Homo sapiens: one gene and its partner. The protein of the gene in region 2 purifies or fractionates together with the protein of the main gene of each other region. This does not show direct contact. Each region holds a gene or a part of one and is shown on either strand. Other genes may lie near its edges.

Region 1 (3,655 bases), on a different chromosome or scaffold from region 2:
AATGGCTGTCTAAATATTATCCTAATGTTAAACCAGAGCTTTTCTGAATAAAAAATGTGGCAGACCAAATCAAAAAACAGAAGATTTATTGGAAGCTATGTTGGTTTGTCTGTTGTGGCCAAAGACTTACTAAATCACAAGTTAGCTCAAACAAGAAGAGAAAAAGACCAAATAGAATCCAGAAAAATTTTAAAGTCCAAATTTCCATCTGAAAACCAGACTAGATGTTTTTACTTAAAATGAGATAAAAGAGGCAATTTACTATAACCAGGCACCCATGAAGAGTAGATTCTAAGTGGTCATGGGCTAGACATGGCATTTCAGCACAAGCCATCAGACCCAATATCTCACAAGATCTGGTATCTTTCAAATAATTCCCCAGGGCAATAGACCAACCAATTGAGTGGTGCTGTTATCAGTTTCATTGCTGTAATGTTTAAAGCAGTTTTGCTTCCATACCTGCTGCTGAATCTGTCCTGCCTGGACAACAATCTGCTCTGTCGAACTATTGCTGTTTGCTGTATACTGCTCCATGGTCCCTCCAAGTGAGATTCCTGTCCACTCTGGAGATCCTAGAAGGCTGTGAGGTACACTCCTGTTAGAAAGGTGGGGAAAGAAACTAAAGTGAGATTGTCAATAAAGGCCTTACCAGACAATTAACCTGGATAATTTATCACTGTACTTTATTTGCAAGAAAACAGGATAGGAGAATAGGAAATGCTTATATTCAGTATCATTTTTAACTGGGATTACATGGCACAATCATAACAACATAATGCTATTTTCACGTTTCTAAAATGCTTTCAGTATACTGGCAACCTTACCTTTCAATACTGTCAGAGCAATACTTGCACCTAAGAGATACTCGTTAAGCTACATCACTTTGATACAAGGCATACCTAACACTGATTTTCAGGTTTGCACATATACTTTAGAGAATAAAGCTTCTTTAAGTTGTAACACGTAATTGCTTCCCACCAAACATGTTACTCAGGTCCACTACATATGGTAGGCAAAATTTACCCTTCTCATAGACTTTAAGAGTTGAAGATCCACTTTTAAAAATAAGGATACAATTAGATAAACTGAATGATATCTGAGAACCTTTAATAAAGACTTCATTAAAAAATTAAAATGATATAAGTTAGCAATCGGCAATTCATCTTGGAAATATGGGAGGGAGGACAGATATATAAACAAAAATGTAGATAGGTCTTTCTCTCTGATTTTTCACTAGGCCCTCATAAATTCCAACATCTGAATAATAAAATGACGTGACCTAACTGAGCTGCTCATTATCGTGGCAAAGTACAGTACCACTCTCCATAAATCCACACATGCTGGTGGAATTAATCATTTGCAAGGTGTCTCAATACAGTGTGAAAGAAGAAACCAAAATATGTGCAACTATATGTCCAAGTACTTAGAAAGAAGTGTATTGATATCTAAAATTTACTTTGAAATGCATCAAAAAATGGATGAATGGGTGGAGAAATATCTGGTAAGGCAATTATAGTAAGATGTTAATAGACCCTAACTGGCAGGTATACAGGTGTTTATTTTCAAATTCCTTTGATTTCACTGCACACTTGAAAATTCTTATTTCTAGAATAAGAATTTTGAGAAATTCTTATTTCCCAAATGAATGTTGGAATGTTAGGAAAAATATAACAAAATTTAATCAAAATAAAAATTAATCAACCCCATTACTCATAACCAAAATGGATACAACATAAGAATCTATGAGCCATAAATAACAGGCTATGTCATCACAGCAAGAGGACTTGTGGCCATATGGTTCTCCAAAGCACTGCCCTTGATCTAATGGAATGCTCGCTAGGTAAATTTCTAGCTATAATTTGGATTTACATATAGATTGGCCAACAGGGAGCAAATATAATCAGCAACATGACAAACCGGTTTTCTGATTTTTACACCAGTCTCTTTGGAATTGGTTGACTAAGTCTGCTCCTCAGAGATTCTGGGTATAGAATAGAAAATCAGGTTTTCAGCCAGACTGTGAGTCTGTTAGGGGCACTAACAGGCTTCCCTAAATTCTATCTTGTCTCTAATACACAATACATTTATGGCTATAAACTAATAAAATTAAGGTTATGATGTAAACGAATATATATGATTCCATTTATATAAAATCTCCAAAAGACATCAGTAATCTAGAGACAGAAAATGGATCAGTGGTTCCTTGGGAGTGGAGAATACAGGGAGACAGGAAAGAGGGAGGTTGACTGGCATGGAGCCTTAGGAACATTGTAGGGTGATGAAAATGTTTTATATCTTCATTGTGGTAGCAGTTGCACAGGTGTACAAATTTGTCAAAACTCATCAAAATACACATTTAAAATTATTATACTTTGTTTCTAAAGTATCTCTCAATAAATTGATTTTAAAAAATAAGGATCATGAAAGGAATGTCTTTTAGGTTTCAACGCCTCCCCAACTCCAAATTTCCTTCTTATATGAGATTTTTTCCTTGACTAATATCCAGAAGTTTACATCTTTACAAGACTAAATATAACTTGAAGCACATAATGACTAATATATGTAACGTACAGATTTTCTTCTTAACTAGTTTATTCTGGTAATACAAATGAACCAATTTAGCAATATTTAAATTTATACTTTGAAGAGTATCAAGATTTGAAGAGCAGCTTCAAATCTAGCAGCAATTCTCTCTCACATTAATGACAGAGTGATTTAGCCTGTATCATGATATTGATACTGTTAATGGTTAATGCTATAAGCAACTGGCTTCAGTAAAGTCATATGTTCCTACTACTGTGAGCTTCAGTTAGCAAGACTGCAATACAATTCGATAGTCTTTCCCAAAGTGCCTCTTTGCCCAAGATTATGACAAACTAAGCCAGATTTAGTCTGTCTAGCTCTTGCTCTTAACACAAAGTTTTGAATGGTTTTTCCTCAAAGAGAGAGAAACAAATAATAAGTGTTTATTCTGGCTAGCATGAAAATTCTCTTCCTAGTGCATTCTCTTCTCAGTGCAATTCTCTTTGCCCCACTATTCCAAGGTGCAAAAGCTGAGACTTAGCCAACCACTTACTAGGAACCCATTCTATGTGGACCTACACAAACTCCAAAGCTAAAACCTCTTCAGAAACTCAACTAGTGTAAGCATATGAAAAGCCATAGGATTATCACAGTTGATAATCACTACCAGGCAAAGCCTAGAACAGTAGCTTTTTAACTTTTTTGACCACAACCCTTAGTAAGAAACACATTTCATTATCACAACTCAGTGCACACATGTATAAAGCATGTAACTGAAATGAAAGTTTCATGAAACAGCATTTACCTTTATACAACACAAGATGCACTTTGGTATTTTCTATTCTTTTTTTTCTTTTAAGAGAGGGGGTCTCCCTATGCTACCCAGGCTGGTCTCAAACTCCTGAGCTCAAAGGATTCTCCCACTTCGGCTTCCCAAAGTGCTGGGATTACAGTCGTGAGCCATCATCATGCCTGGCAGATATTTTCTATTCTATTATTTAAAAATTCCCAGCATTGGCTCACTCAATTTCTTTCACAACTCAACAAGTGGGTCCTGATAGACGCTTGATGAAAGACTAGACTACAACAAAGGGCTGTCCAGCTTCCCCATCATCCTACAGATTTCTGGATT
Region 2 (3,655 bases):
GCCCTTTGCTGGGTGACTGTCTCTGACCAGGTAATAGGACTCTGAGAGAAGCCCAGGGGAGTTAGCAAGAGCCACACAGCCCAAAGCACTGCAATGCTCTATAGAACAGCAATCCTGAAATGTGGACTTTGTCACCACCCTTGGGTCACAGCCACTCCTCTGACAGCACTATGCTCACTTTCCATTTTCCATTCATTGACAAATGCCTGTTGAGTATGCTGCATGGGCCAGACTCCACAGGGAGCGGATGGGGGGGTCAGCCTGCTTGCTTTGCACCCTGTCTGTAACCCTGCCAGCAGCCCGTGGGCTCTGTGCAATGGAAGTGAGACTCTGGGAGGTTAAGTAACCAACCTCAGCACGTAGCCAGGAAGTGGCAGATCCTGGATCCCAGCTTTCTCCAACTCCACAGCTCTTTCCACCCCATCCTGCAGTCCTGTGCTGACCCAACGTTCTTTAGCCGGGTTGGGAGAAAGAACATCGGTAGCTGTCTTCCCGCCTTGGGCCTTGTCTCCTAGGATCTGGAAGTGTTCAGGGGGACATCCAATCAGTGGCAGCCTCCCTCCCAAAGGTGGTGGAAGTCCCCATTTGCTGGGGAAAACCCTGTTTCTTGGAAAGCACCGGCAGAGGCTGGCCGTGGGCTACTGTGCCAACCCAGGGAGTGCATGTGGCTCTGCCTGGGATCAGCAATAAGGCTCGTGGTCCTCACTGGGTGCCCCAGCCCCCTACCTTTGAAGCCACCATGCTCTCTTCAATTGCTACCTAGCTCTGTGCATGGAGAGGCTGTGCATGACCTGGACCCAAAATAGGTACAGGGAGGAGCAATTAAGAATCAGGAGGCTCTGAAGTTGGACTGGCCAAGGTGGAGTCGGGCTTCACCACTCACTGGTTACCTAATGTTAAGCACAACATTTAATCTCTCTAAGCCTCCATTTCTTCGCTATGAAGTGGGTCTGCCAATCACCTGCCAGTCACTGTAAGGAGTAGATGAGATGAGCCGTATTACCACTTAGCATGGGGCCTGGTGTGAGAAACTAGCTACTCTCACTGTTGGAGGGAGAGTCATGATCATTCTTGTTTTTGACCATGCCACTGAGCAGGTCCTGGCCTAAGAGAAAGCACTTTTCCTCCTGAGCTTCCTTTTTTTTTTTTTTTTCCTGGTGAAATGAGTGATCTTGACAACATCACCTATAAGGATCCCTGCAGTGTTTACAACTTGGTGACTCTGGCTGGATGACTTTTAGGTAGTCCAGATTCTAAGGTCACCCCTGGAATCTGGTTTTATCTGCAGACTTTTCTTTTATAAATTGGTTTCTTAACTCCAATATTCAATCTTACTCCCAGGAGCATCTAGGGAATGTGGGTGCGTTTAACATCCAGATGTTAGGCATGAATGGCATTATCGATGATCAGCTGATGCCTCTGGCTGAGAAGTCCACTCTCCTTGCTGTTGGCCCCTGTACAAAAAAAAAAAAAAAAAAAAATTCCTTCTCAGGGCTTTCTCAGCCAAACAGCCTTACCAGGAGGGAGGCAAAGAAAAGGCCAGTGGCTCCGAGAACCTACAGATCTGAAAAACTTCTAGCCTGTCATGGAATACTGGCTGTGTCCTCTAGAGACCTGAGCCTTGCTTGGATCCCTTTCCCAGGATCTCTAGATCTTGGGAGGAGACAAAAGTAATGATGGAGACCTGCCCCCATTTCCTCTACCTACCACAAAGTATTGCAAACTGGATGGCTCAAAACAATAGAAGTTTATTGTTTCACAGTTCTGCAGGCCAGAAGACAAAAATCAGGGAGTCTGTGATGGTTGCTTCCTTCTGAAGGCTGTGCAGGAGTCTGTTCTGTGCCCATCTCCCAGCTTCTGGTGTCTGCCGACAGTCTTTTGCATTCCTTAGCTTGTGGATGCATCAGCCCAATATCTGCCTCAATCATCGCATGGTCTCTTCCCTGTGTGTGAGTCTTCACATCTTCCCTCTATGCACATCTGTCTCTGTGTCCAAATTTCCCCCTTCTGTAAGGACACTAGTCATGTTGGATTAGAGTCCACCCTGATGGCCTCATTCTCACTTGATTTAACTGTGTTACCTCTCTAAAGGCATTTCTAATAGGGTAACATTCTGAAGTACTGAGAATCAGGACTTCAATATATACTTTTGGGGGGACACCATTCCACCTATAATAAGGTCCTTGGACTATTTTCATTACTTCCAAGGGTATAAGAATTAAACATTTCTTCCTACTGATTCTTAATAATTCTGTTTATTAAGTGCACGGACTCTAGAGATTACCTGGGTTTGAATCTTGGCTCTGCCACTTACTAGCTGTGTGATCTTGGGAAACTTATTAGGCCCCTATATGTTCAGTTTCCTCAACTGTAAAATAAGAATAATAATAATATTTACACCTCTTAGAATTCATATAAACATTAAATAAAAACACATTTACAATGCCTCATCTTATCACTCTTCTATATCCTACCACGTTTGGAAAAGGCTCCATCTAATAAAAACAGCAGAAGTATCTACAATACTTACCATGTGCCAGGCACTAGTCCAAATACTGTTGTGTACATCAACGCATGGCATCATCGCAGCAACTTTCTAAGGTGGGTGCTAGTGTCATCCCTGTTATACAGAAGCAAAAACTAAGCCCTAGAGTGATCAAGTCCTATAGGTACAGCCCTGCAGCCACTAAGGGGAGAAGTTAGGACCCAAATCCAGATTTGTCTGACTCCAGGGCCTTTTAGGAGCCACTGGGACTGGTTGACTTTCTAGGAATAATAAAAGGGTCTTGTAAGGATGAAAAGAATCACAGGCCACCACCTTCACTTGCCCAGAAAGTCACTCTGTTTTCAAAGGCCTGATTCTGGAGGCTTTTCCTATTATGGCGGACTGTGCTCAGAAAACACACTCGTTTCTTTACAACAGGCCCCGTACATGAAGGGCATGTGTCTCTCTTCCAAGCCCCAGGATGACTTTGGAAGGCCCCCACCCCAACCCAGGAGAGCCAGGAAGAAGCAAACCATGATGCCTTCCCCCCAGGGAACAATGGTCATTTGCCTGACATCTTGACTCTGTGGTTTTGTGTCTTCTAGGGAAGTCTGTTAGAACTGCTGTGCTGATCAACGGGACGCTCCGTCTTTGAAGAAAGAAGAGATGGTCTCTCCCCAGCCATGGGCCACCCTTGCCAGTGACTCCAAGTGGAACTACTTAGCTCGCGTGTGCCTGGAGGGTGCGGGAAGTCCAGCGACTCTCAGACGCACCTCCCAGAGGACCGGTGGGAATTGTTCATAGTGCCAAAGTCCTACTACTGCGTTTTCAATGGGTCCTTGTACATAGTTTGCTCCTCTGCCCTAGCCCTCACCTCTTGCTATACTGGAACCGATTTGTACAATGTGGGAATTTTGTTACCTTTTTAATCAAGGGCAACTTCCTTTTCCAGCACTACCATTGTAAGGTTTTTTTCAGGAGGGAGGGCTAACCACCTTGCTTTTCTCTTTTCTCTTTTTCTTTTTTTTATTTTTGTTTTATTAATTTGGGGAAAGGGGTGTTAGCATTAGTGCCATGATATCTACTGGATTTTAAGTAGGGAGACTTTATTTTTAAAGGTAGGTTGAAATTTGGGAGATTTCTCGGCAGGAAGGGCTGAAATCCAGGCCC

Evidence for each region. Proteins that work in one complex are often made in the same cells at the same time.
Region 1: the proteins of ZHX2 (region 2) and NFYA purify together in Homo sapiens (co-immunoprecipitation; one study listed by IntAct). This does not show direct contact.

What each region holds. Positions count from the first base shown.
Region 1 is NC_000006.12:41,075,969-41,079,623, reverse strand, and holds part of NFYA (nuclear transcription factor Y subunit alpha), read right to left. Parts: intron 596-3,655; 5' UTR 535-595; coding exon 460-534; intron 1-459. UniProt on the Homo sapiens protein: Component of the sequence-specific heterotrimeric transcription factor (NF-Y) which specifically recognizes a 5'-CCAAT-3' box motif found in the promoters of its target genes.
Region 2 is NC_000008.11:122,970,152-122,973,806, forward strand, and holds part of ZHX2 (zinc fingers and homeoboxes protein 2), read left to right. Parts: intron 1-3,090; coding exon of another isoform or gene 3,091-3,117; 3' UTR 3,118-3,655. UniProt on the Homo sapiens protein: Acts as a transcriptional repressor. Represses the promoter activity of the CDC25C gene stimulated by NFYA.